Homo sapiens: one gene and its partners. The protein of the gene in region 1 purifies or fractionates together with the protein of each later gene. This does not show direct contact. Each region holds a gene or a part of one and is shown in the gene's direction. Other genes may lie near its edges. The genes, in order: MYO5B, RAB3B, SYTL4, EXOC6 and NPC1L1.

Evidence for each region.
Region 2: the proteins of MYO5B (region 1) and RAB3B purify together in Homo sapiens (affinity purification with western blotting, with the first as the bait; one study listed by BioGRID). This does not show direct contact.
Region 3: the proteins of MYO5B (region 1) and SYTL4 purify together in Homo sapiens (affinity purification with western blotting, with the first as the bait; one study listed by BioGRID). This does not show direct contact.
Region 4: the proteins of MYO5B (region 1) and EXOC6 purify together in Homo sapiens (affinity purification with western blotting, with the first as the bait; one study listed by BioGRID). This does not show direct contact.
Region 5: the proteins of MYO5B (region 1) and NPC1L1 purify together in Homo sapiens (co-immunoprecipitation; one study listed by IntAct). This does not show direct contact.

What each region holds. Positions count from the first base shown.
Region 1 is NC_000018.10:49,901,204-49,905,757, reverse strand, and holds part of MYO5B (unconventional myosin-Vb), read left to right. Parts: intron 1-929; coding exon 930-1,086; intron 1,087-2,924; coding exon 2,925-3,164; intron 3,165-4,554. UniProt on the Homo sapiens protein: May be involved in vesicular trafficking via its association with the CART complex. The CART complex is necessary for efficient transferrin receptor recycling but not for EGFR degradation.
Region 2 is NC_000001.11:51,983,878-51,988,431, reverse strand, and holds part of RAB3B (ras-related protein Rab-3B), read left to right. Parts: intron 1-4,554. UniProt on the Homo sapiens protein: The small GTPases Rab are key regulators of intracellular membrane trafficking, from the formation of transport vesicles to their fusion with membranes.
Region 3 is NC_000023.11:100,721,429-100,725,982, reverse strand, and holds part of SYTL4 (synaptotagmin-like protein 4), read left to right. Parts: intron 1-4,554. UniProt on the Homo sapiens protein: Modulates exocytosis of dense-core granules and secretion of hormones in the pancreas and the pituitary. Interacts with vesicles containing negatively charged phospholipids in a Ca(2+)-independent manner.
Region 4 is NC_000010.11:92,854,323-92,858,876, forward strand, and holds part of EXOC6 (exocyst complex component 6), read left to right. Parts: intron 1-4,554. UniProt on the Homo sapiens protein: Component of the exocyst complex involved in the docking of exocytic vesicles with fusion sites on the plasma membrane.
Region 5 is NC_000007.14:44,514,052-44,517,753, reverse strand, and holds part of NPC1L1 (NPC1-like intracellular cholesterol transporter 1 isoform 2 precursor), read left to right. Parts: intron 1-396; coding exon 397-547; intron 548-819; coding exon 820-1,051; intron 1,052-1,556; coding exon 1,557-1,670; intron 1,671-1,788; coding exon 1,789-1,951; intron 1,952-3,702. UniProt on the Homo sapiens protein: Plays a major role in cholesterol homeostasis. Critical for the uptake of cholesterol across the plasma membrane of the intestinal enterocyte. Involved in plant sterol absorption, it transports sitosterol, although at lower rates than cholesterol.

The sequences.
Region 1 (4,554 bases):
GCCTGCCCTCTGACCCTACCCTCGGTTGTTAGGTTTTGAGCCCAGGCCTGGTTCAAGTCCAGTGCCCTCTCCAGAAAGGAATTTCCTTAGAGAAGTGACAATAATCGCCACAAAGTCTTGTGTTTGGAGGCCAAACAGAGAGCTAGACTAGGGAATCAGATGCATTTCAGCAAACAGGTGACACATGGGCTGAGTGGGTCACTTTCTCCTTTGAGGCTTTGCTGAATGATTTCCAAGGTCTTTTTTAGCATTTCACACTGAGTCTCTAATTGAGCACTTGTTATAGGCCTGGCAGCAAACAAGACCCTTCAGAAGGGGAGGAAGTGTTAGACTGGCTTTATCTGGGAGGTGAGATGGGAAGGCAGAAAGGCAAGAGAGGAGAGGAAATGGCCACATTCCATGCATCCCGAGCAGAAAGGGTTGAGGAGATAAAGGAAACAGAGATTGGTCTGGGCCTGAGAAGGTTTAGTCATTCAGCAAACACTTACCCAGTGCCTACAGTGGGTCCAGGATGATGGAGACACAGCCCCTGGGATCTCCAAGCCTGGGGAGGTACAGAGGACAGGCAGCAATGTGAACACATGATGTAGAATGCTACTGGTGAAGTAGTTGAGGACTGCCCAGGCACAGTGAGGTAGAAGAGTGCTCAGATAAGGATCATAGAGGAAGTCAGACTCTGACTGAGTTTGAAGCTTGTGGGAAGCCTTTCGAGACCATAAGGAAAGAACTAACACTGCTTTTCTAGCCACAACGTCAAATGCCTAAGGCATTGCTACATTTGTTAGGGGTGAAGAGAGTTGGTTTCCCCTGGGTGTGTCCAGGTAGGGCCACAGAGGGAGAGGTTTGCATTTGCAGATGTCTCAGGGTTCTCTGCATCAGGGCGGTCAATACTCTCTCCCTGACACTGCCTGTTTCCTCTTGCTCCCCAGGCTGGCTGAGCACCTGCGGAGGATCAGAGCGGCTGTGGTGCTCCAGAAACATTACCGCATGCAGAGGGCCCGCCAGGCCTACCAGAGGGTCCGCAGAGCTGCCGTTGTTATCCAGGCCTTCACCCGGGCCATGTTTGTGCGGAGAACCTACCGCCAGGTGAGTAGCCACTCTGAGGGCCTCAGGGCTGCAGATTCAGAACTAAAGTGGCAACAGATGAATTACTGCCAACGTGAACCTCTGTCAAGCACTCCCAACTTTTTTCTAAATGCTTTCACATCTCTGCTCTCACCAAATCCTTTCTGAAGTCCCACAAGGTAGGAAGGGTGTGCATACTGTTGTCTTAGTCCATTAAATGTTGCTATAACAATATCTGAGGCTGGGTGATTTATGAAGAAAAGAGGTTTATTTGGCTCACAATTCTGGTGGCCAGAAAGTTCACAATTGAACATCTGCTTCTGGAGAGGGCCTCAGGCTGCTTCCACTCATGGTGGGAGGTGGAAGCCGGTGTGTGCAGAGGTCGCATGGTGAGAGAGGAAGCACAAGAGTGGCTCTTTTAACAAGCAGCTCTAATGAGAACTAACAGTGAGAAATCACCCTTGAAGAAGGGCATTTATTTGTTCATGAGGGATCTGCCTCTATGACTCAAACATCTCCTGTTAGACTCCATCTCCAACATAGGGGATCAGATTTCAACATGAGTTTTGAAGGGGCCCAGCATCCAATCATGGCAGTTTTCACACCCCTTCTGATACCTGAGTTGCTCAGAGAAGCCAGGTCACCTGCCTGAGGGCCCAGGCCAGCCAACAGCAGGGCCAGGTGACCCACCTAGGGCTCATTCACACTTGAGGGCAGGCGGTGGTATTGGGCATCATCAGGTCTAACTCCTCCACTTAACGGATCAGGAGCTTGAAGCCCAACATGGTGAGGTCAGGAGGGAGGCCCCGACCTCTTCCCTGCCAGGTTCTTGCTCTTTGTGTTGTTCCAGTGAAGCCAAAACCCTTGGGTTCAGGAGCCCCACATCAGGACACATCTGTTCAACCAGGTAACACCAACACATCTGAAGCACAGAGCTGACTTGAAACACGAATTGGAAGGAAATGTCTAAAATGGTTTTCTTTTTCATTAAATGAACATCTGTCTCTTCTATGATCACAGAAGGTGTGATTTTCTAAATAATAAAAGTAAAGCACGAAATTGATAATAATAAAAATGTGGTCAGGGTGGAGCACACCCTGGTGTAGTATGTAGAGAAACCCAGGCCATTGGGAGAAGGTTCTGTGAGTGTTCTTGGGTGATGGGTGGCGTTGGTGTGCTGCTCCCATGGAAGGGGCAGGTGATGTTTGGGAGTTTCTCAGCAGGGGCAGCATGTGCAAAGAGTGAGCACTGATGTGGCTCCCAGCTCTGTCACTCATGGCTGTGGCACTGTTCATTGCTCAGCCTGTTTGCTTGTTTACTCATTTATTCCACAAACATTTATTTTACCAGGTATTAGGGCGAGCACACTGATGATGCTTTCATATCCTGAGTGGTTTTTTAACTTGGTAGAAAAAAAAAAACAGTGAATTACACACCAAGTTTGTAATTATAAGCCATTAGCCTGCTGTGGACACTCACTGAAGTATCTCACTTCCAGCTCAGTGCCACCAGGAGGGGACCTCCACCTGGTAAATGGGTAGAGAGCAAGTGGATGATCATTAGGCCCCTACAACCTTGAGGTTTTCAGACTGTGGTTTCCTAACCCATAAAACAAAAAGTAAAACAAAGCTGAAAAGAGTTTGACAGCTGATTCCCTGTGGATATGTAGGCGCAGAACCTCGCTGAAATGTGTTATAAAACAACCACCAAAGCCTTAGATCTTAGGGGGCACATTGTCTGTGTAACTCCTAGAACCAAGGCTGCCCTGGCCTCTTCCCTCCACAGGCAGTGATGTATGCTTCCTTCACTCCTGTCCTGCAGTGCAAACCCACAAGATGTGTATCCTTGTTTCCCGCCAGGTCCTCATGGAGCACAAGGCCACCACCATCCAGAAGCACGTGCGGGGCTGGATGGCACGCAGGCACTTCCAGCGGCTGCGGGATGCAGCCATTGTCATCCAGTGTGCCTTCCGGATGCTCAAGGCCAGGCGGGAGCTGAAGGCCCTCAGGATTGAGGCCCGCTCAGCAGAGCATCTGAAACGTCTCAACGTGGGCATGGAGAACAAGGTGGTCCAGCTGCAGCGGAAGATCGATGAGCAGGTCAGTGTCTGCAGCTCCCTACCTGGGTGTCGGGGGCTTGGGTACTGGAGCATTTTGAGAGAGCCCACAGCTTCCTTGAGGAACTGCACATGCCGAAGACCCGAGGGAGCACAGACGTCCTCAGACCACAGCAGATACTAACTGTGGCAGGCAGATCAGTGACCCCTAAAGATACCCTCAGCCCTGGGATCTGTGAGTGTGTTACCTTATATGGCAAAAGGGACTTTGCAGATGCAATTAAATTAAGAACTGTAGGATGGGAAGAGTATCCTGGGTGAGCCAGGTGAGCTTGATATAACAGGGGTCCTCCTAAGAGGGAGGCTGGAGGATCAAGTTCAGAGAAGAAGTGATGACAGAATCAGAGGTGGGAGGGATGCAGGCAGCCTTGAGAAGCCAGAGAAGACGAAGACATGGACTCTCCCCTAGAGCGTCCAGAAAGAATGCAGCCGTGCCAACCCCTTCAGACTCCTGACCTCCAGAGCTGTAAGATAATGATTTATGCTATCTTGAGTCATAACTTGGTGGTAACTTGTTGCAGCAGCAATAGGAAACTGACACACTAGCCCAAGGTGCTGGTGTTTTGCCCTTGCAGGGGTGACATAGGGTAATGCAGCAGCAGCTGGTGTGCATGGAGGGCTTGCTGTGTGGGGTATGGGGCTGGCGCTTTGACTGGAGTAGCTTGTCTAATATAGCGGCCCTCCTACGGCAAGTATTACCATCCCCCTTTTTGTACAATTGAAGACACTGGAAGGGCACATGGCATCCTAAAGTCACACAGGTGGCAGTGGCAGGGCCGAGGTTTGAACCCCAGCTGTCTGGCTCCAGAGCCCATGCTCTGCATCACTTTGCCCTTCTGTCTCTCTGTCTGCCTATCTGTCTGTCTGCCTCTTTTGGAAAGAGTGTTTGCTTTGGAAATCAGAATTCAGTTCTTCTGCTTAAAAGTTGAGTGGCTGATGTGACTACTCTGAACCTCTTTTCTTATCCATAAAATGGGGCTGACAGGGCTGAAAGAAGAATAAATGGTCTAATGCATATGCAGGGCCTGGTATGCAGTAGGAGAAACTTGAAAAATGGTTAGCACTCTTATTTTTAAGCTTTGTCCTCTTTCTACCCTGGCCACCTTCCCATGTCAGCCAATCAAAGGGGTAACAAGCCATTGATTAAATATCCCTGTAGGGGGTTGGGTACCGTACAACGTAGTACAAGAGATTCGAGACAAGCACAGAACACTCAGCTTTGTCTAATGGAATAGACGAGGCTCACATGTATGCATGCACAAACCTGGACCCCCACTTTTTGGTGGCCCACATGGCCAGTCCTCCTTCCCTTCAGAAGACCTTTATTGGATGCCTGGCTGTTTCAGGTGCTTTGCTGGCCTTGCTGGACAGAG
Region 2 (4,554 bases), on another chromosome or scaffold:
GAATGCTTTGAAAGCATCTTGTAGAATGCTAGACATTTAGTAGGTGCTCAATAAATGGTAGCTATTGTGATATTGTTTCTGTGGCTCTAGGAGACCTGGGAAAACAATGAGAAGGTGGTGATGGGTCAGCAGTGGGGAATGGTCTAAAGACAGATTGAATTAGAAAAGTAGAGTATGGCTTAAAGGAGGATGAGGTCCACATTTGCCCAACTCCCTTCTTATTCTCACTGAAATGCTCCAAGTAGGAAGACAGGGAATTACATTATTGAGCCCCTGCTATATTGCATATACAGTTGACCTTTGAACAGCATGGGTTTGAACTGTGTAGGTTCACTTATACCTGAATTTTTTTTTTCAACCAAACACTGATTAAAAAAAATACCATGGTGGGTCAAGCGCAGTGGCTCAAACCTGGAATCCCAGCTATTTGGGAGGCTGAGGTAGGAGGATCGCTTGAGCCCAGGAACCTGAAGCTACAGTGAGTTATGATCAGGCCACTGTACTCCATCCTGGGAAACAGAGTGACACCCATCTCTTAAAAAAGAAGAAAAAGAGAAGAAAATACAGTAGTGAAGGGAGGTGAAGTCTGTATATTCAGAGGACCAACTTTTAGTCTAGGTGGGTTCCACTGGGCCAACTGTGGTTCTTGAGTAGGCGTGGATTTCGGTATATATGGGGGTCCTGGAGCCAATCCCTTGCCTATACCAAGAAATTACTGTACTATTCTAGATGTATAACCCACATTACCTATAATTTTCCCAACAACACTTGTTTTATGAATGAGGAAACTGTCTTAATCATGTAACATTTCTTGCCAAGGTCTCATAGGTAATAAATGATAGACCTGGAAACTGAATCTAGTTTGTTTGATTTGGAGCTCCAAACTATTTCCACTACACAGGATGACTTGCTAGAAGAAACCATGAAGCACAGAGACAAACAAACAAACAAAATAAGGGGTTAATAAAACACCCTCCCATATACAGGTTTTAATTCTTGCAACAGTTTTGCCAGGAAGCCATTTTATGAGCTCCTTTTATAGATAAGGAAACTGAGGCCAGGGGTGTGATTTGCCTAAGTTTACAGGATCACTGAAAGAGCCAGGGCTTATCTTTCAAATGCCAGGTCTCTTGGACTCAGTCTCATGTTCTTTGCAACAAAAGGTAAGTTCCTTCATTCACTTCTTCACTCCATTTATTGAGCTGATCTCTTCTCGCTGGATTTTAGGGCTCTCTCCTCCTCCTCCCCGCTCTTTCCTGGCTGAAGTTGGCTTCTTCCTTAGGTGCTTATTTCTGCCGCCTATCAGACTGAAAGGGTTGTTTTTCACAGCCACCCTTTGAGGAGTCATTTCTTTCCCCCAGCCTGGGACAGGGACGACTTCCCAGATGGTCCCTGGGCCTTCATCTGTATTGCTTGTCACGGAGATAGCTCTATCATTTTATGTGACTGTCACAAAATAGAGGAAAGATTTGATTGATGCTTATCTTACAAATGCAATTCTGCATGCACCACTGTGCATGACCTGTCTGCTTAGATCTGCCTCAGGCAGCTGCCTGCTGGGATGCTTTTTGCCTGTCTTCCAAATGTCTGAGTAGCCCCTGGCCGCCCCCTCCTAAGAAGATCCCCTTGGGGGCTTCCATCTGAATGAGCCTTCCAACTGAACTCAGCTCTCTGCCTCTCCCCGTTCTCACACCACCTACTGGGAAAGCCATGCTGTGTGTGCATAAGCAGATGTTAACAGTGTGGTATGGCAAGTACAGTACGGTAGCAGGACACTCAGGATGTTGGGTATGCTTCTTTTTTTTAATTTTTATTTTTAGAGATAGGGTCTCACTCTGTCACCCAGGTTGGGATACAGTGGTGCAATCATAGCTCACTCTAACCTCGAACCTCTGGACTCAAGTGATTTTCCAGCCTCAGCCTCCCAAGTACCGAGGACTACAGGTGCACACCACCACATCCGACTAATTTAAACTTTTTTTGGCTGGGCGCGGTGGCTCACGCCTGTAATCCCAGCACTTTGGGAGGCCGAGGCAGGCGGATCACAAGGTCAGGAGACCGAGACCATCCTGGCTAACACGGTGAAACCCCATCTCTAGTAAAAATACAAAAAATTAGCCGGGTATGGTGGCGGGTGTCTGTAGTCCCAGCTACTCGGGAGGCTGAGGCAGGAGAATGGCGTGAACCCGGGAGGCGGAGCTTGCAGTGAGCTGAGATCGCGCCACTGCCCTCCAGCCTGGGCGACAGAGTGAGACTCTGCCTCAAAAAAAAAAAAAAAAAAAAAATTCGTAGAAATGGAATCTCACTATGTTTCCCAGGCTGGTTTTGAACTCCTGGCCTCAAGTGATTTTCCCATTTTGGCATCCCAAAGTGTTGGGATTACAGGCATGAGCCACCATGCCCAGCCAGGATGCTTCTTTATTCACCCTAAAATTGTTGTGGTTTTCGTTTTCCTTAATCCCGTCAAACCTGGAAGCCATTAGGTAACAGAAGTTCCATTCATGACCCTCCAACTGACTTGCTGTGTGAGCTTGGACAAATCACTTGTCTTTGCAGAGCCTCAATTTTTTTTTTTTTTTTTTACCTGTAAGATAAACGGAGGTAGATCAGGAACTGAAACAATTTTTTACTCTTGCCATCACTTCCTAGTCTCCTATCTGTGGCAGTCACAGCTAATAAAGGCAGGCAAATTTCTCACTGATTCTACACGAGGCTACATGTATTTTTCTCAGCACAGTGTATGAAACATACTTATATACGTTCTCTTATTTAAAATTCACAGCACCTCGTGAAGTAAGTATTATTGTCAGATGAGGACACTGAGGCATAGAATTTAAGTAACTAGGCCAAGTTTACACACTGAGTTACTGGGAAAGCTGGGCCCAGTAGCCAGGCTTTTTGTTACAATAAAAAGCTGCTACTCCAAAGTCCCCTCTAATTCTAGCAGTTTAAGAGTGTGAAGCTGGGCTACATCAGAAAAGTGAAAACCAGTAATCTGACATTTACACTGATAGTCTGGCACTTGAAAAATGCTCTATATGTGTTTCTTGAAAGACATAACACCCTCTAAGGATTTACTGTAGGTCTAGCGTTGACCAGATGTAAGGATGGATAAAGCCCCCTTGAATCCAGAAGAGAGAGCAAACAGTTAATTGTAAAACAGGCCCAAATAATGGAGCCACAATCAGGGAGAGGGCAGTTGAACAAGATTTGCCTGCAGAAGTGAATTAAAGGGGCCAGTGAAATAATATGTATTCAGTACCTCCATGGGCCGAGAAACTGTGTCAGATTGTTTACGTATAGTACTACTCTTTCTATTTGTACCAAGCTCTGTGAAGTAGGTGGTATTTTCTCTATTTTAAGGTAAAAGTGCTGTGGCTTAGAGAGGCAATATGACTTACCTAAGAATTCATCTGAGGGTAGAGCATTGATTTTAAACTTTTTCATAACACTGCAGGGTACTAAGTCTAGTCTCGGCTGTTAGCTATGAGATTTGGGCAAATCCTTTTAATTTCTCATTTTCAGTTTCCTTCTTGATCAAATGGAAATAATAATCCACGTCTTTCCAGCTTTATTTCCCAGGTTTATTTAGAGATAAAAGAAGATAAAGGATATGAAATTGTGGTAAAGATCACATTTATGTTTTAGTAGTGACTCTTTGACCAGCAATTCCACTTCAAGGAATCTCTCTCAAGGAAGTAATTAGGAAAATGTACAAAAATTTATGTAAAGAAATGTTCACTGCAGTTTCATGTATAATAATTAAGAGTAGAAAAACAACTTAAAAACAACTTCCTAAAGAGAGTGACAACATTAAATAATTGATCTGGCTGGGCCAACATGGTGAAACCCCATCTCTATTAAAAATACAAAAATTAGCCGGTGTGATGGTGAGCACCTGTAGTCCCAGCTACTTGGGAGGCTGAGGCAGGAGAATCGCTTGAACCCAGGAGTTGGAGGTTGCAGTGAGCCAAGATTGTGCCATTGCACTCCAGCCAGGGTGACAGAGCAAGACTCTGTCTCAAAAAAAAAAAAAAAAAAAAAGAATTGGTCTTATGACACATCTATAGGATGGAATATAATGTAGTCAACTGAAATGATGTTTTTTTAGAGTTTTCAAAGTCTCGTTCATGCTTTTTTTTTTTTTTTTTTTTTTTTTTTTTTTTTTAATTAGAGAGTCTCCACTGTTGCCTGGGCTGGAGTGCAGTGGCACAATCTCCGCTCACTGTAACCTCCGCCTGCCAGGTTCAAGTGATTCTCCTGCCTCAGCCTCCAGAGTAGCTGGGATTACAGGCAGCCACCACCACGCCCAGCGAATTTTTTGTATTTTTAGTAGAGATGGGGTTTCACCATGTTGGCCAGACTGGTCTCGAACTCCTGACCTCGTGATTCACCCGCCTCAGCCTCCCAAAGTGCTGGGATTACAGGCATGAGCCACCGCGCCCAGCCCTTACTTTCTTTTCTTTTTTTTTGAGACAGTGTCTTGCTCTGTCACCCAGACTGGAGTGTAGTTGTGCAATCTTGACTCACTGCAGCCTCCGCCTCCTGGGTTCA
Region 3 (4,554 bases), on another chromosome or scaffold:
CCTTGAGTAATTTTTAAGAAGTAGAAAATTTCCATGGCATCTACACTGCTTCTTGTTTGTAGCTCTATCGATTCAGGCATCAGAATACCATTAGTATCAGTGTCTTTAAACTCATCAGAAAGCGTGATTTGATTTACTGAGGGCCTATGTTGTGCCATGCTCTGTGTTGATTTACTGAGGATTTACGTTGCACCAACTGAGAGCCTACAGTCAGGATCCTACAATGTAGATTTATCCATCTATCCATCCATCAACCCAGCTAGATGCTTGAGGTATGGCTGAGAAGAAGGTAGACAATGGCCATTTTTCTCCTGGAACTTATTTCGGCAGGGGAAGTGTATATTAAATATTGTATCACATAATTTTTTAATTACAATTGTGATAAGTTCTGTGAAGTTCAGTTTTCTTAGAAATCAGATTGTCACATTGCTTTTTAACAGGCCTTACTAATTTACATTTGCCAACAAAATATGAGAATATCTCTTAAATCCTTTTTAAAAACTGAAAATTGTCTTTCTGAAATTTTGCTGAATTAATAAGCAAACATAAAAAAATCTTTATTGCCAGTAAGAGTGAAACTTTTTCTTTTTGATGTGTATTGGCCATGTGATTTTTCCCCTTTAAGAATTATCTATTCACGCTCTCTGTCTATTGGATACTTACCTCTTCTTGTTTTTAATAGATCTCTCATTCCATGTTTGAAACCATTAGCTACACTTCTCTCCTTTCTCTCTTAGCCCTGGTGACCTTAAAATATTTTCCCCTAGTCTCTACGGCCATTCCCTTTTGATCTCCTGTGAAATTTTTTTCTTACCTAGAAGTGTTGCTGTGCTTAGGGATGGGACTACATTTTTATTACTTGACTCAATAAAAGGTAACATATAAATCTTCTGTTCCTGCTTATCCCACTCTCCAGAGGTAACAATGTTAAGATTGTATTTCTTTCTAGACATTTTTCCATTCATCCATGATCCAATCTGTCTAAAATGTAAACAAATAAAAATGGAATCATAATATATATGATTTGCAATTTTTTTAATTTAATATGCTTTCAGTGTCAGTATATATAGAACTACAGTACCTTCTTCTTTTTTTTTTTTTCTTTTTTCTTTTTATTGATCATTCTTGGGTGTTTCTCGCAGAGGGGGATTTGGCAGGGTCACAGGACAATAGTGGAGGGAAGGTCAGCAGATAAACAAGTGAACAGAGGCCTCTGGTTTTCCTAGGCCAGAGGACCCTGCGGCCTTCCGCAGTGTTTGTGTCCCTGGGTACTTGAGATTAGGGAGTGGTGATGACTCTTAACGAGCATGCTGCCTTCAAGCATCTGTTTAACAAAGCACCTCTTGCACCACCCTTAATCCATTCAACCCTGAGTGGACACAGCACATGTTTCAGAGAGCACAGGGTTGGGGGCAAGGTCACAGATCAACAGGATCCCAAGGAAGAAGAATTTTTCTTAGTACAGCACAAAATGAAAAGTCTCCCATGTCTACCTCTTTCTACACAGACATGGCAACCATCCGATTTCTCAATCTTTTCCCCACCTTTCCCCCCTTTCTATTCCACAAAACCGCCATTGTCATCATGGCCCGTTCTCAATGAGCTGTTGGGTACACCTCCCAGACGGGGTGGTGGCCGGGCAGAGGGGCTCCTCACTTCCCAGTAGGGGCGGCCGGGCAGAGGCGCCCCTCACCTCCCGGATGGGGCGGCTGGCCGGGCGGGGCGCTGACCCCCCCCACCTCCCTCCTGGACGGGGCGGCTGGCCGGGCGGGGGAGCTGATGACCCCCCCACCTCCCTCCCGGACGGGGCGGCTGGCCGTGTGGGGGGCTGACCCCCCCCACCTCCCTCCCGGACGGGGCGGCTGGCCGGGCAGAGGGGCTCCTCACTTCCCAGCAGGGGCGGCCGGGCAGAGGCGCCCCTCACCTCCCGGACGGGGCGGCTGGCTGGGCGGGGGGCTGACCCCCCCCACCTCCCTCCCGGACGGGGCGGCTGGCCGGGCGGGGGGCTGACCCCCCCACCTCCCTCCCTGACGGGGCGGCTGGCCTGGCGGGGGCTGACCCCCCACCTCCCTCCCGGACAGGGTGGCTGGCCTGGCGGGGGCTGACCCCCACCTCCCTCCCGGACGGGGTGGCTGCCAGGCGGAGACGCTCCTCACTTCCCAGACGGGGTGGCTGCCGGGCGGAGGGACTCCTCACTTCTCAGACGGTGCGGCTGCCGGGCGGAGGGGCTCCTCACTTCTCAGACGGGGCGGCCGGGCAGAGACGCTCCTCACATCCCAGACGGGGCGGCAGGGCAGAGGCGCTCCCCACATCTCAGACGATGGGCGGCCGGGCAGAGACGCTCCTCACTGCCTAGATGGGATGGCGGCCGGGATGAGGCGCTCCTCACTTCCTAGATGGGATGGCGGCCAGGCAGAGACACTCCTCACTTCCCAGATGGGGTGGCGGCCGGGCAGAGGCTGCAATCTCGGCACTTTGGGAGGCCAAGGGAGGCGGCTGGGAGGTGGAGGTTGTAGTGAGCCGAGATCACGCTACTGCACTCCAGCCTGGGCACTATTGAGCACTGAGTGAACGACACTCCGTCTGCAATCCCAGCACCTCGGGAAGCCAAGGCTGGCGGATCACTCGTGGTTAGGAGCTGGAGACCAGCCCGGCCAACACAGCGAAATCCCATCTCCACCAAAAAAATACGAAAACCAGTCAGGCGTGGCGGCGCGCGCCTGCGATCGCAGGCACTCGGCAGGCTGAGGCAGGAGAATCAGGCAGGGAGGTTGCAGTGAGCCGAGATGGCAGCAGTACAGTCCAGCTTCACCTCTGCATCAGAGGGAGACCGTACCTTCTTCTTTTTAACAAAGGCACAATATTCCCTAATATGTGTGTACAATAACTAGTCAGTTTCCTTTGATGGATGTTTATGTTCTTTAATTTTTTTTTTTTTGCTGTTTCAAATATTGAGCATCCTCAGAATATATATTTGTGAATTTACTTGAATATCAGCAGAATAAGTTTCTCAAAATGAAATGGCTATGTTAAAAATATGGTCAGTGGTACTAAAGATCCAGAGAAATCTAGGAAGACCAAGAACTGTCTATTGGATTTAGGAAGTTCTTGGTGACCTTAGAGCAATTTCAGAGAACTGTGAGGCAGAAAGCTAAACTATGGTGGGTTGAGAAATGATTGGAGAGATGAGGAAGTGAAGGCAGTGATTATGTACAATTCCTTAGAGAAATCTGTCTGGCTTTGAAGAGCAGAGAAAGGGTAGTAGCAAGGAAGGAGTTGAGATTGAGGACCTGTTATTTATTTATTTATTTATTTATTTAGGAAGGACTTGAGTTCCTTTAAAGGCTGGTGGGAAGGAGGGACTAATTAATAGAGCAAAATCCTTGGAAGGCAAAGTCCTTATGCCAGATGGGAGGGGATCCAGATTGAGGTAGAGGATTATCCTCAATAGGCATAGATGAAAGTAGGTTCATAGATTTGGCGGCAGGAACTTGTCTGATGGTATTTCTATTTCTCTATGATATAATAGTTAAGGCCAACCTCTTAGAGCAGGGGTTAAGATGGGACAAGGTTTGAGTTAGATATTTGTGGTATTTGAAGAAGGTTTGAAATAGTTATTGTGGAGAACAGGAGAGCAGCCTAGGGAAGCATAGTTGCAGTGCCAGGCAGGGTTAAGATGAGCTTGGTGACCAAGAATTCATATGGATAATAATCTACCAGAGTGTGATTTTTTTTTCTCCAGTAGATCTCAGGAGTCCTTGTGCATGCATAAAGTATAACAGTTGGGCTTAGAAGAGCTATGGTTTTTTAAATCAGATATTTGCAGTGAAATTATGCATTATTGAGGATATTGACAAGAGTGCAGTTGAAACAATAGAATTGGCTGGGTGCGGTGGCTCACACCAGTAATCCCAGCACTTTGGGAGGCTGAGGCGGGTGGATCACCTGAGGTTAGGAGCTCGAGACCAGTCTGGCCAACATGGTGAAACCCCATCTCTACTAAAAATACAAAAATTAGCCGGGCATGGTGGCGCACACCTGTAATCCCAGCTACTTGGGAGGCTGAGGCAGGAGAATCGCTTGAATCCAGGAGGCAGTGGTTGCAGTGAGCCAAGATCATGCCACTGCACTCCAGCCAGAGCAATAGAGAAAAAGTCTCAGAAAAAAAAAAGAGAAAGAAACAATAAAATTTAAATGTTATTGGGAAGGAAGTAAAGATGGGAAGGAGCTGAGGAGGTGAAAGCAGAAGGGTCTATGGAAGACTGCCCCCATCCAAGAAATCTGAGAACAGGAATGGGGCTAGTTGGGGGGCTCATTGGCTGAATAGGCTAGAAGCACAGCAGGTTGTGGTCAGAGAGGGGGTGTTGAATCAGTGATATCAAAGGTGGAGAAGTCCTAGATGATAAGCTCTTGGGTGTGGCTGAATATGATATATGGTATTCTTGATGCCAGCTCATTCATTCAACAAATATTTATTTTGTGCATATTATGATCCAGGCAGTGCTCTAGGCACCAAAGGTACAGAAATGAACAAAACAAAGTCCCTTCTGTCAT
Region 4 (4,554 bases), on another chromosome or scaffold:
GCTACTTGGGAGGCTGAGGCAGGGGAATCACTTGAACCTGGGAGGCGGAGGATGCATGAGCCGAGATTGTGCCAATGCACTCCAGCCTGGGCGACAGAATGAGACTCCATCTCAAAAAAAAAAAAAAGACTGACTATACCATGTATTGGTAAGGATGTAGAAGAACTGGCACTCTCATACACTGCTGTGGGAATTCCATAAATGCTGTTTATCAGGTTGAGGAGTTCTCTTAGTTTTCATTATGAAGGGGTGTTGAATTTTATCAGATGCTTTTTTCTGTATCTATTGAGGTGATCATGTGGTTTTGTCCCTTATTCTTTTGATATGGTATATTACATTATCAGATGTAAACCAACTTTGTATTCATGGGATAAATCCCATTTGATCATAGTGCATAAAGTATAATCCTTTTTATATGTTGTTGGATTCTGTTTGCTAGTATTTTGTTGAGGATTTTTGCATGTGTATTCATAAGATATTTTGATCTGTTTTTTGTGTGTGTGTGTGTGATGTCTTTGATATGAGAATGATACCTCATAGAATGAGTTGGTGCTCTCTCAATTGAGATGAGTATTTGGGTTTTTTCCCCCCTTTATTCTATTCATGTGGTACATTACATTGATTGATTTCCTCATGTTTAATTACCCTTGCATTCCTAGGATAAATCTCATTTGGCCATAGTGTATAATCCTCTTTAATATACTGTTGGATTTGGTTTGCTAGTATTTTATTGAGAATTTCTACATCTATATTCATGAGGGATTTCTGTAATTTTTTTAGAGACAAAATCTCACTGTGTTGCCCAGACTGATCTTGTACTTCTGGCCTCAAGCAGTCCTCCTACCTTAGCCTCCCGAGTAGCTGGAATTATAGGCATGAGCCACTGTGCCTGGCATGAAAATTTTTTTTTTTAATTTATGTTTGAGACAGGATCTTGCTACATTGCCCAGGCTGGTCTTGAACTCTGGAGCTCATGCAGTTCTCCCACCTCAGCCTCCTGAGTATCTGAAACTACAGGCATGTTCCACCATGCCCAGCTCTGTAATTTTCTTTTTTTGGTGATGTCTTTATCTGGCTTTGGTATCAGGGTAATGCTGGCCTTATAGAATGAGTTAGGAAGTGTTCGCTTCTCTTCCACATTTGGAAGAGCTTGTGAATGATTAATGTTAATTCTTTAAATATATGGTAAAATTTTCCAGTTAAGCCATGTGTATTTTCTTTGTTGGGAAGTTTTCGATTACTGATTCCATTTCATTACTTGTTAAAGGTATACTCAGATTTTCTAGTTTTCTTGAGTTAGTTTTGATAGTTTGTGTCTTTCTAGGAATTTGTTGTGTTTCATTTAGATTATTTTAGTTGTTGACATATAATTGCTCATAACTTTTTCTTATTTTTATTTCTGTAACATTCTCTCTTTTGTTCTTGAATTTAGTAATTTGAGTCTTTGTTTTTGCTTGGTCATTCTAGATAAAGGTTTGTCAATTTTGTTGATCTTTTCAAAGAACCAACTCTCTGTTTTATTGATTTTTTTCTCTATTGTTTTTGTTTTTTCTTTTTTTTGAGATGAAGTCTTGCTCTGTTGCCCAGGCTGGAGTGCAGTAGCGCGATCTTGGCTCACTGCAACCTCCGCCTCCTGGGTTCAAGCGATTCTCCTGTTTCAGCCTCTCGACTAGCTGGGATTACAGGCACATGCCACCATGCCTGGCTAATTTTTATATTTTTAGTAGAGATAGGGTTTGCCACGTTGGCCAGGCTGGTCTTGAACTCCTGACCTCAGGTGATCTGCCTGCCTTTGCCTCCAAAATTTCTGGGATTACAGGCATGAGCCACTGCACCTGGCCTCTCTATTGTTTTTCTGTTACATTTACATCTGATCTAATCTTTATTACTTTCTTTCTTCTGCTTGTTTTGGGTTGGGTTGCTCTCTTTTTTATTATGATGGAACCCAACCTTACGATGGAAGTTTGGGTTATTAATTTGAGATCTTTCTTATTTTTTAATATTGGTTTTTACAGCTATAAATTTTTCTCTAAGAACAGCATTAGCTTCATCTAAAACTTTTTGGCATGTGTGTTTTCATTTACCTTTCTTCAAAATATCTTTAGTTTTCCTTATTATTTCCTCTTTCACTGGTTATTTAGAAGTGTGCTTAATTTCAACATATTTGTGAATTTCTAAAATGTCCTTCTGTTATTAATTTCTAATTTAATCCCATTGCAGTCAGAGATAATAATTTGTATGACTTCAGTTTATTTTAAGTTTATTGAGGCTTATTTTATTGCCTAACATAGTCTGTACTGGAGAATGTTCCATGTTCCCTTGAGAAGACTGTGTATCCTACTGTTGTTGGAGGGAGTATTCTATAGAGGTCTGTTAGGTCTAATTAGCTTAGAGTATTGTTCACGTCTCCTATTCCCTTTTGGTCTTCTGCTTAGTTGTTCTATCCATTATTGAATGATGAGTAGTTTTTATGTCTTTTCAGGCTCTGTTGTTAGATGCATATATGTTTATACTTTATATATTCCTTATTGATTGACCATTTGCCGTCATAAAATATCCTTTATTTCTAGACTTGTTTTAAAGTCTGTTATGTCAGATATTAGTATAGCTGCTGCAGCTTTCTTATAGTTGCTCTTTTCATGATATATGTTTTTCTGTTTACTTTTAAATATGTCATTAAATCTAAAGTGTATCTCTTGTAGATAGCACATCATTGGATCTTATTTTTATCCAATTTGAGAACCTATGCCTTTTGATTGTTTATTCATATTTAATGTTATTATTTACATAGTTGGATTCACATCTGCTGTTTTTCTTGTGTTCTATGTCTCATTTCTTTCTTCCTTTTTTTTTTTGCTCCTCTATTCCTTTTTTACTGCTGCTTTTGCATTAAGCAAATATTTTCTGGTGTAATATTTTAATTAGTGATTTTTTGGGAATTTAGAAAAAAGTTAGTTCTTAGTGGTTGCTCTCAGAATCTACTTCAGAATTAGTCTAATTTCCAGTAAGGTATAGAAATGTTACTCTTATATAGCTATATTCCTTCTTTCCCTTTTTTTGTGTTATTACAATAATACATTACTATAATTGTTACTTTTTATAATTTTTTGTCTTTTAAAGAAGCAGAAAGAAGAACAGAGACCAATATGTATTTTTAAAGTTTGTTATATTAAGTTTCTTATTTACTGTTTCTGATTCTTTTCATTTGTTGCTGGGTTTTTAGTTGTCATCTTGTGTCATTTTCTTACTCCAGAATGGCTTTGCTCCCACATACATCCTTTGTGTTGTGATTGTCCATTGTATTACATATATTCTATATATATTTTATATGTTGCATGCCACCAATACAATTATGTACATGTAGTTTTATGCAACTGCTTCCACAAATCAGATAAGAAATGAGAAGTATGCATTTATACTGTATTTTATAATTACATAGTTACCTTTACTGGTGTTCTTTGTGTGTGTCTGTGTGTGTCTGGTCTGTGTGTCTGTGTGTGATCAAATGGTCATCTGAGTTCACTCTTAATCGTGAGGAAATTCCTTTTGTATTTCTTGTAAGGCTGGTCTGCTTGAAACTATTTCCTGTTTTTTTTGTTGTTGTTGTTTGTCTGTTTTTTTAAAATCTGGGCATGTCTTTATGTCATCTTCATTTTTGAAAGATAGTTTTACCATATGTAAGATTTTTAGTTGACGGGTTCCCCCCCTCCGCCGGCCAGCAGTTTGAATATGTCTTTCCACTGCCTCTGGGCTTCATTATTTCTGATGAGAAGTCAGCTGTTAATCTTATTGGAATTCCCTTATGTAATCAGCAGTTTCTTGTTGTTTTCAGGATTTTCCGTTTGTCTCTCATTATTTTACTATGATGTACCTGGATATGGATCTCTTTATGTTTATCTTACTTGGAGTTTGTTGATCTTCTTAGATATGTAGGTTAATGTTTTTCATCAAATTTTGGAAATTTTAAATTATTTCTTTAAATAGTCATTCTGTTCCTTTCTCTTCTCTACTTTGGTGCTCCCATCTCATGTATGCTGGTGTGCTTAATGATGTCCACATTTATTTGAGACTCTGTTCATTTTCCTTATTCTTTTTTCTCTCCTGTTCTTTTTTCTCTCTTACTGTTTTTTCTCTCTTGTTCTCTGATTGCATAATCAGACTGTCTTGTATATTCACTGATTCTTCCTTCTGCCAATTCACATCCACTGTTGGGACCCTCCAATGAATTTTTCATTTATGTTACTGACTTTTCAACTCTGGAATTTCCAATTATTAAAAAAAATAATTTCTACTTCTTTATCCATCTCTATTTGGTAAGACATTGTCATCATACTTTCCTTTGCTTCTTCTTTTTAGTTCTGTGAGCATAGTTATTATGGCTGCTTTGAAGTCTGCTACATCCAACATCTGGGCCATCTCATAAGCAGTTTCTATTGCCTATTTCTTTCTTTCGTTTTTTTTGAGACAGAGTCTTGCTCTGTCACCCAGGTTGGAGTGCAGTGGCACAATCTTGGCTCACTGCAACCTCCGCTGCCCAGGTTCAAGCAATTCTCC
Region 5 (3,702 bases), on another chromosome or scaffold:
CCGTTCTCATTTTTCTGTCTTCCTTTCTAGTCCTTTCCTATAGGAATATGCAAATTAAAAACCAATTAAGTTAATTTTAAAAATCCAATGCATATCTTGAAACCATACAGAGAAGAATCTCGGTTCACTAGGGAGATCTCTGTAGGCTTCACTCATCAAAGGTCAGGCCTGGGTCTCCCACAGCAGTGGGGCCAGCTATGGAGTTTGCAGGGCTGGTGCAAAACAAAAATATGGGCCTCTTGCACAAAATTTACTAAGAATTTCAAATGGTGGTGGCAGAGCCCTGAACCCCGCTTGATCACATGCCTGTGCCACTGCGTCTGCGGTGTTCTGAAGTTGTCCTGGAAAGGGCTCTGACCTTTGCCCTTCCATCTTCTGTGTGCCATGGCTGTCCAGCCTCCAGGTTCATGGCCTATCACAAGCCCCTGAAAAACTCACAGGATTACACAGAAGCTCTGCGGGCAGCTCGAGAGCTGGCAGCCAACATCACTGCTGACCTGCGGAAAGTGCCTGGAACAGACCCGGCTTTTGAGGTCTTCCCCTACACGTGAGGACCTGAGTGGCTGGGCTGGAGGGAGGTGGGGTATGGTTGCTGGAGACTGGAGGTTAGGGTGGAGGGCTTGCAAGGAGTTGCATGAGATGAGGACCAGTTTTAGGTCAGGAGGCTCTGGCTGCAGCCTTGGGCCTATTTCTTAGGCTGGTTTGTACCCCAATATAAGCCTGCCTGACCCTCAGCATTCTCCTTCTGAAGTGGGGTGTCCCACCCACCATGAGGGCCCCAGAGGCCTGAGCCTGTGACCATGCTCTGTGCTCTGGCAGGATCACCAATGTGTTTTATGAGCAGTACCTGACCATCCTCCCTGAGGGGCTCTTCATGCTCAGCCTCTGCCTTGTGCCCACCTTCGCTGTCTCCTGCCTCCTGCTGGGCCTGGACCTGCGCTCCGGCCTCCTCAACCTGCTCTCCATTGTCATGATCCTCGTGGACACTGTCGGCTTCATGGCCCTGTGGGGCATCAGTTACAATGCTGTGTCCCTCATCAACCTGGTCTCGGTAACCCAGCAGACACAGGCACCAGGGGGCCTCTGGAGGGGTGGTTGGGGATCCAGCCTCATAGAATACTCCTAGTTCTTTTTTGTTTCTTTTTTTAGAGGCAGGGTCTTGCTCTGTTGCTCAGGCTTGAGGGCAGTGACATGATCACAGCTCACTGTAGCCTCGAACCCTTGGGCTCAAGCGATCCTCCTACCTCAGCCTCCAAAGTAGCCAGGACTACAGGCACGTGCCACTGCGTCCAGCTAATATTTTAATTTTTGTTGTAGAGACAGGGTCTCACTTTGTTGCCCAGGCTGGTCTCAAACTCCTGGGCTCAAGTGATCCTCTCACCTCGGCCTCCCAAAGTGTTGGGATTATAGGCATGAGCCACTGCACCCGGCCAAATACTCCCAGTTCTGTCTAGAATCTAGATGCCTGCCCCACGCTGGTCCTGGTGGAGGCCTCATCTCCCTAGTTCCTTCCCCACCTCTGCCTTTCTTGGCTTATGCCCCCTCTCTGCCCATAGGCGGTGGGCATGTCTGTGGAGTTTGTGTCCCACATTACCCGCTCCTTTGCCATCAGCACCAAGCCCACCTGGCTGGAGAGGGCCAAAGAGGCCACCATCTCTATGGGAAGTGCGGTGAGTGGAGAGGAGTGGGCCACCCTGTGCCCCACTCGACACCCTGTGCCCTGCCTGATGCCCTGTGCCCTGCCTGATGCCCTGTGCCCTGCCTGACACCTGGCTCTGAACCCCCCAGGTGTTTGCAGGTGTGGCCATGACCAACCTGCCTGGCATCCTTGTCCTGGGCCTCGCCAAGGCCCAGCTCATTCAGATCTTCTTCTTCCGCCTCAACCTCCTGATCACTCTGCTGGGCCTGCTGCATGGCTTGGTCTTCCTGCCCGTCATCCTCAGCTACGTGGGTGAGTGCCCAGGCCTGTTCCTACCAGACTGTCATGATTATGCTGACGACAACAGTAACAGTGCATGCTCACCACAAAAGCTCAGGAAGTGCAAACGAGCCATGGGCAGATGTCAGAAGCCAGGACTATGACCATGTGGCAATTCTGTCTTGGAAGCTACTATTATTCATTTAATGTGCTGTGAACATCTTTTTTTGTCAGCTATGTATGTCTCAAACAACGTTTCTGTGGCCCTGTACACTGTGGATCTTCACTGCACTGCTGTTGGACTTTTAAGCATGCCCTTCAGCAAGAAATATATTTTACACAGAGAGGTGACATGCACGGGCACACATAGACATGCCTGCCTAAAACAAATGCTTCACTAAATAATATTAATACTTCCTTTATACATGTGAAGCATTCTGATATTGCTGGTTCCATTCTATTATTATTATTAATATTTTTTGGAGACAGGGTCTTGCTCTGACACCCAGGCTGGAGTGCAGTAGCATGATCACAGCTCACTGCCACCTTGACTTCCCAGGCTCAAGTGATCCTCCCACCTCAGCCTCCCGAGTAGCTGGGACCACAGGTGCACACCACCATGCCCAGCTAATTTTTTATTTTTTGTAGAGATGGGGTCTCCCTATGTTGCCCAGGCTGGTCTCAAACTCCTGAGCTCAAGTGATCCACCATGGCCTTCCACAGTGCTAGGATTACAGGTGTGAGCCACTGCGCTTGGCTTTTATTTTACTTTAAATTTGTTATTTATTTTATTTTACTTTACATTATTTTATTTTTATTTTTTGAGATGGAGTCTCGCTCTGTTGCCCAGGCTGGAGTGCAGTGGTATGATCTCAGCTCCCTGCAACCTCTGCCTCCCAAGTTCAAGCCATTCTCCTGCTTTAGCCTCCCAAGTAGCTGGGATTACAGGTGCGCACCACCACGCCTGGCCAATTTATTTATTTATTTTTTATTTTTAGTAGAGACGGGGTTTCACCATGTTGGGCAGGCTGGTCTCGAACTCCTGACCTCAGGTGATCCAACCGCCAAGGCCTCCCAAAGTGCTGGGATTACAGGCGTGAGCCACTGTGCCCAGCCCTATCATTAATTTGTTTTTAATTATTTTAATTATTTTTATTTTTATTATTTTTAGACAGAGTCTCTCTCTGTTGCCCAGGCTGGAGTGCAGTGGCGCAATCTCAGCTCACTGCAACCTCTGCCTCCTGGGTTCAAGCGATTCTCCTGTCTCAGCCTCTCGAGTAGCTGGGATATCGGTGTATGCCACCATACCTGGCTAATTTTTGTATTTTTATTGGAGACAGGTTTCACCATGTTGGTCAGGCTGGTCTCGAACTCCTGTGGCCTCAGGTGATCCATCTGCCTTGGCCTCCCAAAGTGCAGGGATTACAGGCGTGGGCCACCGCACCCGGTCTCATTAATATTTTGAAATGCTGGCCAGGAGTGGTGGCTCATGTTTGTAATCCTAGCACTTTGGGAGGCTGAGGCACATGGAAGCTCAAATTGAGCCTCCCAGGATGAAGGTGTTTCTGGCTCTCAGGGTGGGCAAGCTGGGAGGAGTTCAATTTTACCTCCCACCAGATGGTAATAATATTATTAGAGGACATTTATAGAGGGGTGTGTTTGTGCATCAACATATGTGTCTGTAATTCTCTTACTACCCCCGAGGCAGGTATTATTATCCTTCCCATTTTACAGATGAGGGAACTGAGACACCTGCCCCAGGTTACAGACTTGGTCAAAGGTAG